2 linked regions of the Homo sapiens genome follow. The protein of the gene in region 2 purifies or fractionates together with the protein of the main gene of each other region. This does not show direct contact. Each region holds a gene or a part of one and is shown on either strand. Other genes may lie near its edges.

What was found. The genes of interacting proteins can lie anywhere in the genome.
Region 1: the proteins of HTR2C (region 2) and CAND2 purify together in Homo sapiens (co-immunoprecipitation; 3 studies listed by BioGRID and IntAct, with this or other methods). This does not show direct contact.

The regions. Positions count from the first base shown.
Region 1 is NC_000003.12:12,827,680-12,831,179, forward strand, and holds part of CAND2 (cullin-associated NEDD8-dissociated protein 2), read left to right. Parts: intron 1-347; coding exon of another isoform or gene 348-410; exon of another isoform or gene 411-1,920; intron 1,921-3,500.
Region 2 is NC_000023.11:114,905,586-114,909,085, reverse strand, and holds part of HTR2C (5-hydroxytryptamine receptor 2C isoform a precursor), read right to left. Parts: intron 2,498-3,500; coding exon 1,671-2,497; 3' UTR 1-1,670. UniProt on the Homo sapiens protein: G-protein coupled receptor for 5-hydroxytryptamine (serotonin).

The DNA of each region.
Region 1 (3,500 bases), on a different chromosome or scaffold from region 2:
TTTGTCCTTGCTCCCTACTCCAGGCACCCAATGAAAATAGCTGCATTGTTGTTTTCTGATAAGAAAAGGAACCTGTGTCTCAAACACCTTTGGTGGGAGTCTACACTGGGCAGGCTCTTTGGAGGATGGTTTCACAGCAACCAGAAAAAAAAAATTGTCCAGGTGTGGTGGCTTATGCCTGTAATCCCAGCACTTTGGGAGGCTGAGGCAGGAGGATGGCTTGAGCCCAGGAGGTTGAGGCTGCAGTGAAACATGATCACACCACTGCACTCCAACCTGGACGACAAAGCGAGACCCTGTCTCAAAAAAAAAAAAAAAATTCCCAGACGAAATTTTTGACCCTGCAGGGCACTTTCAGCTGTGGAATACTAGCAGCATTGAGGAGCGAGCTGCATCTCTTCGTGTTGTGACCTGAAAGAGCTCCAAGCCCCAATGTTGAGTGGCAAGAGCTAGTTCCAGAAGTTAGGACCATTTTCTTAACAGACAGAGTGAGTCTGGGGCTGGTGGAGACGTCGGTTTCTTCAATTTATATCTTTCTATATCATTTTTTTAAATGTTAAAGTTTATTCACATATATGATAGAAATCATTTAATTGTGGCGAAATATTAATAATACAAGTTACTATCTTCAGTAACTTACTATCTGCAGGTGAAGTGTTTTTTTTTTTTTTTTTTTGAGACAGGGTCTTGCACTGTCACTCAGGCTGGAGTGCAGTGGCTTGATCTCAGCTGACTGCAACCTCTGCCTCCCAGGTTCAAGCGATTCTCCTGCCTCAGCCTCCCAAGTAGCTGGGACTACAGGTGCCCACCACCACACTCAGCTAAATTTTTTTTGTATTTTTAGTAGAGACGGGGTTTCACCATATTGGCCAGGCTGGTCTCGAACTCCTGACCTCAAGTAATCTGCCTGCCCTGGCCTCCCAAAGTGCTGGGATTACAGGTGTGAGCCACTGCGCCAGGCTCCATCTTCACTATTTTAAAGTGCACAGCACAGTGGCAGTAAGCACATTCACATTGCGGTGCAGCCGTCACCACTGTCCATCTCAGAACTCTTTTCTCCTTCCCAAACTGAAAACTGCACCCATTCAACACTCTATGAATTTGACTACTCTAGGTTTCTGCCCTTGTAAGTGGAATCATACAGTATTTGTCCTTTTGTGACCAACTTGTTTCACTTAGTCTGATGTCCTCAAGGTTCATCCATGTTGCAGCATGTCAGAATTTCCCAGTGTTGTATGTACAGACCACCAGTTTGTTTACCCATTCATCCATCGCTGGACAAATATTTGGGTGTTCCCAGCTTCTGGCTATTATGAGTAATGCGACTGTGAACCTAGGTGTTCCGATATCCTTTGGAATCCTGCCTTCAGTTCTCTTCACTTTACCCAGAAGTGAAATTGCTGGATCATACGGCAATTCTGTGTTTAATGTCTTAAGGAACTGCTATACTACAACTTTATTTTTAAGTTTTTATTTATTTGTTTGAGATGGAGTCTCACTTTATGGCCCAGGCTGGAGTGCATTGGTGCAATCTTGGCTCACTGCAACCTCCGCCTCCCGGGTTCAAGTGATTCTCCTGCCTCGGCCTCTTGAGTAGCTGGGATTACAGATGTGCACCACCACGCTCGGCTAATTTTTATATGTTTTAGTAGAGACAGGGTTTCGCCATGTTGGCTAGGCTGGTCTTGAACTCCTGACCTCAGGTGACCCACCCACCTCGGCCTCCCAAAGTGTTGGGATTACAGGCATGAGCCACCACGCCCGGCCCCATATTACAACTTTAAAAAATATGTACTGTAAGCGTGAGTCACTTTTTATAAGGAAAAATTAATACAAAGTAATCAAAAGTAACCCATACTTGTTTTAAAAGATTTACACAAGATGAAAGCAAATAAAGAAGCAAGTAATAATCACCCAAAAGCTTCTCCACACCCAGAGAGGCCTGCTGTCTCAGTGTGTTTCTTGGGATGATGCACATAGACCCTCATTCATTAGTCAGCCAGTATTAAGTGAGTGCCAACACGCCAAGGTCAATGTGAGAGGTGGGGTCCCTGTTCTCAAAGCTGTGGAGATGAGTTTATGAGACCTGTTTTCTAGAAATGGGATCACACACATGCTGTTTTTTTCCCCAGCCTTTTAACTTACATTTACTGTATGTTGTTTGCTTTGCTTTTCAATATATATCAGTCCTGTCAACAGCTGCAGGAGTTCCCATTTCTGTTGCACTCACTGCTACACATGTATGTTATTTGCACATTTTCACAATTACAGACAATGCTGCTGTGAACACCCTGGTGCATTACTGTGACCCACGGTGTGATCGGTGGGCTTCTAGGGTGGAGTGCATGTTCCTGCTAAAGCATCCGATGCGCGTGGTGAGGCTGCACCTCCTGCAGCGGGCGTGCCTCTGACCACTCCAGACTTGGAGTTCCTGGGACGCTCCTTCCTGCACTTCCTGTCTGCCTGTCTCCCCCTCGGCTTTATTATTGCTTTAAACTCTTGCTTCCTGCCAACCCCCAAGAAAGAGAAAAGAAGAAACAACATAAGTTCTCTGGGATTCCAGCCCCAAGATCTTGGTTGAGAAAGGGGGTTGGGTTTTCCAGTGTATGCCATGCAAACTAGTGGAAAATGATGGGGCGCACAAAGCTGAACAGGACTTTCCACCACAGGGTTCCGGGAGGCTCCAGACGGGAGGGGTGTACTCAGCTTCCATCATCTGGGTGTGCCTGGTATTAGGCATCTTGTGGGGCTACTGACCCCAGGACACAGAGTGAGGAGTTCTGGGCCAGCCCAAAGCTCCACCTTGTGGGGATTTTTCTCCAGGATCGAGCAAGTCTGTTTCTTCCATCCAGTCTGGCCATATCCTCTCATGCCTGCCCTCCAGGAGCGCAGGACAGGGCCTAGGCACCAGTGCAGCCTTGGAGTCCACTCTGCTGCCACCCCCTGGGGTGAGGAGGGTGGGTGTTACAGCTATAGAGCCCACAGCTTTGCGTCATCAAGTCTTCAAGTGAGCCTTTAGAGAGGGAGTGAACACCGCCCAGTTCACAGGGGAGACGGAATCTTGTCTAGTTCTAGGGCACAGGGTCATGGAGTAGCCAAGAGTCATAGCTCCTGAAGTCCAGCACCGCTGCTCCTTGCTGCCGTGGGCTGGGCCTCCTCCTTTGCTGTGGGGCTTAGGGGTCAGGGTGTGGAGATGGGTAGGGCGTGGGGATTTCAGACAACCAGTCTTTATGGTGTGCAAGGCTTCTTTGTGAGGACTTGACTATTTTCAAAAGACAGGACAATTATTCCCCTACAGGCTGAATCTAGGCCTGCAGCCATGTTTAGTTGTTGTTAAAAGTTTTTGTTTGGTTTTGAAATCAGGTGTCAACATTTAAAAATCGAGACTTTTTTTTTACATGAAAATTGGGATTTCTTTTGAAAACAATCCAGTGGCCCCAAGCTACATGTTTGCACTCCCACCTGGCCACACTCAGCCAGAGCTGCCCCAGCAGCCCCCT
Region 2 (3,500 bases):
CTTGTGGCAGACTATTGGATTTATCTATACTGTGTGTTGAGAACACAGACCAAGGGTTTTAGAAATTCAGATTTTTCATTAACCAATTTTAAGATACTGAGAGGCACATTCTCAGGTGTGTAAGTAACTGTCAAGCGTAAGAACTAGCATCATGAATTCTTCCAAAATTTATCCACAGTTGTGTGAAATGGGCACGTATGGAAATACTGTTACTAGAAACACTTGTATACTCTGCACACAGCATAGACTGAATGGCCTGACTTTAGCAATGCTTGAAAACTTTTCATGGTTTAGAAACTATTAAAATGCTACTGAATTCTTAGAGAGCAGCAGGCCCACGAATGAAATGATGGCCAACACTTATTGTAACACAACACTATATTTTAACAAAGATTTAAACTTCTGGTAAATAACTGCAGTGCAATGAAGAGCTTGCCACTTTCACAAATTAGCTGCAGCCTTTTCCTGCACTAGAGAGTTTGGAAGGATCTGAAAATGACATAAATTTTGTTTAAAATCCAAATGGAAACTCCGTGTTTCTGTAATCCCGAGTTCGGTAAAAGTGTCTTTTTAATTACTTTTTTTTTTCACATTCTAAGGGCCCAATTCTGTAGTCCTTAATCAAGTAAAACTTCCAAAGTTTCTACCATCTATACTTCCAATACAAGTTTTACTCAAAAATGGACTGCTAAATTAAGTCCTATAGACAGAGGTACCATAATTAAGAAAATATTTTAATAAGGCTCAAAATACTAATTTCACTTTGTGTGAAGCACACAAATTTCCAGGATGCTGAGATCAAAACCCAATTGATGTTGAATCCTGGGTTGGGAAATAACTCTGGGATCTCATTTCCCAGTTTAATCATAGAATTAGGAATTTACTAAGGACCAGAATGAAAACACTAATTTCAGTTTGCTTGTTGTAATAATCAGAATTTGAACACTGTCCTTAAGAAGTGAAAAGCTATTTGGTGTATTACATCTCATTATCCTTCCACTTCTGTAGTCCCGGTTAACCAGCTGCTATGTTAAAATACCACTATGTTTAGGGACAGACATTGCAGTAAATACCAACACAACATTCTGACAATGTCAAATTTTTGCCCCTATATGAACAACAAGACTAGGTTCTGCCTCTGACTCACTGACAGATGTATCAGAAAGCAGAACCTATCTTACTGTGTTTATATGTGTAGATGAGCAGAGCAAGAATGTAAAGTGTATATTTACTGTTAACCCAGAACAAATGTCCACTGAATTTGTTAATTTAGGTGTGGTTGAAATATAACCACTGTCATGTGCCTCATTCTGGTCACCTGCAAATGCCACCTGAGATGAACATGAACGTTGCCATATGCACAAAAGAAAGAGAGAAAGGAAGGAAGAAAGGAAAAAAGGAAGGAAAGAAGGGAGGGAGAGCAAAAATAAACATTTTATTCATCAAACAATCAAAATAAGTTAGTCTCCACCTATTATAAACAGTAAATATAGAACCCTAAATCTCACTAATGTAGGCATGATTGTAAAGTACAAGGTTGCAAAGCTATATGTAAAAACACTTTTTCAGACAGCAATATTTACATTAGTTAAGACCAACAGAAAAATTAAAGAAGAAAATTTTCCTACATATGTAGCTTGTACCGTAGGAAAAGACTGTGCTGTTCTTTCTCACACACTGCTAATCCTTTCGCTAACCACACTGGAGGGATTTACTGGTAACTCTAAATTCTCAACTTGCATCTCTATACCGGGCTCATTGTCACTGGCTTTCTCGATCACCGGTTCATTGGTATGCCGATAAATGTTAACATTAAGCTCCCTCCCAGACAAAGCAGTGGCGGCAACTCTTGGAATCTGCCTGACAGGAGGCTTTTTCTCTACCTTATAATTGCAACGCAAATAGTTGGAGAATGCCCTTCGGTAAATTTTGTTGAACAGAGTATACACCAGAGGATTGATTCCTGAACAAACATAGCCAATCCAAACAAACACATTCAGAAGCTTTTCCATGAGCTTTTGGTTACAGGACTTCTCACAAAGAACAGACAGAATATTGGTAATGAAAAATGGGCACCACATGATCAGAAACACAAAGAAAACAATCCCAAGGACTTTCGAAGCTTTTCTTTCATTGTTGATAGCCTGCATGGTGCCCCTAGGACGTCTCTCCTTCTTCTTTCTTCGGCGTGCGTTCTGGTCTTGGTTAGGGTTTGCAGAGTTCTCTTCCTCGGCCGTATTCCTCTTGCAGCACTTCAGGAAATCCAGACTTAGTCCAGGCGGTTCCTCGGTGTGGCCGTGCAGTAACATCAAAGCTTGTCGGCGCAGAACGTAGATGGTCAGGCAATACGTAATCACCATAATCGTCAGCGGTATGAAGAAAGCTACGAAGGACCCAATAAGAACGAAATTTGGGTCGTTGAGCACGCACGTCGTGTTGTTCACGAACACCTTTTCTTCGTCCCTCAGTCCAATCACAGGGATAGGAACTGATACACCTAAAGGAAGAAAAAGGAAGGGGGTTGTTATAGCATCTTGAAGGACTGAACAGATGTATTCAACGGCATACATTAATTTGCATTTTACGGAAGGAAATTCAGACCTGATATTTGTTGAAAGCTATTCACGGCATAATCGATAGTCACATGAAACACTAGCAGTATGGCATCAGAAAATGATGGCGTTTTTCATGTTAGGAATGCCTTCTCCCTAAATTCTGTAGAAGGCATGGAATTACCCTTATTGATATTAACTATATTAGAGACACGGTTGTGTCAAAGGGTGGATTGTGTCAGATTTGTTGGATTTCCAGTTCCAAGAATCGTCCTGGCTCAGAGAAGGCACTCGATAAATATTTGTTGAATCAATGAATAAATTCACATCTGTACTTGATGACATTAATAAAGCCAATCATTCTTTCTTTAGCATATCATTTTCCAAATTCAATAAAAATGAGACAAATACCACCTGTAATAGTAATAATAGCCTATTAGGGATGGCTGGGCTGAGTCTAACTACTATGCAGAAATAGTCAATAAGCAGAGACTGAAAAGATTCTCTTTTTAGCAAGGGTTTTTGTTTGTTTGTTTTATTTTGAGTCTCTGGGCATGAGCAATGTTTCAAAGTCAAGAGAGGGTAAAATGTAGAGTTGGGAGATATGCAGTCCTCCAGTTTCTGTGTGGAATTTTGAGCATTTTTGTTTTAAGAATACTGAGAGGTAGTACTCTAGGGAAGCACTTCCTTCAATAAATAGGCCCATAGTTAGGAAATATCAATGAGGAGGTGGGAGCAGAAGGTGATCTTGTGCCTGAGCATAAGTAAGATATCTGGAAGCTTTCAGAAATAACCACAGTAGGTCTTCAAGAGGTCCTGCATCAATACATAGAGATAAATAGATAACAGATAGAGATTGCTGTCCTGTCTTGTGTCCACAGGAAGTCGAAGCCTGGGAAGTTCAGATTGTATTTGTGGGGTTCCATTAGAGATTATTAGGAATCCTGG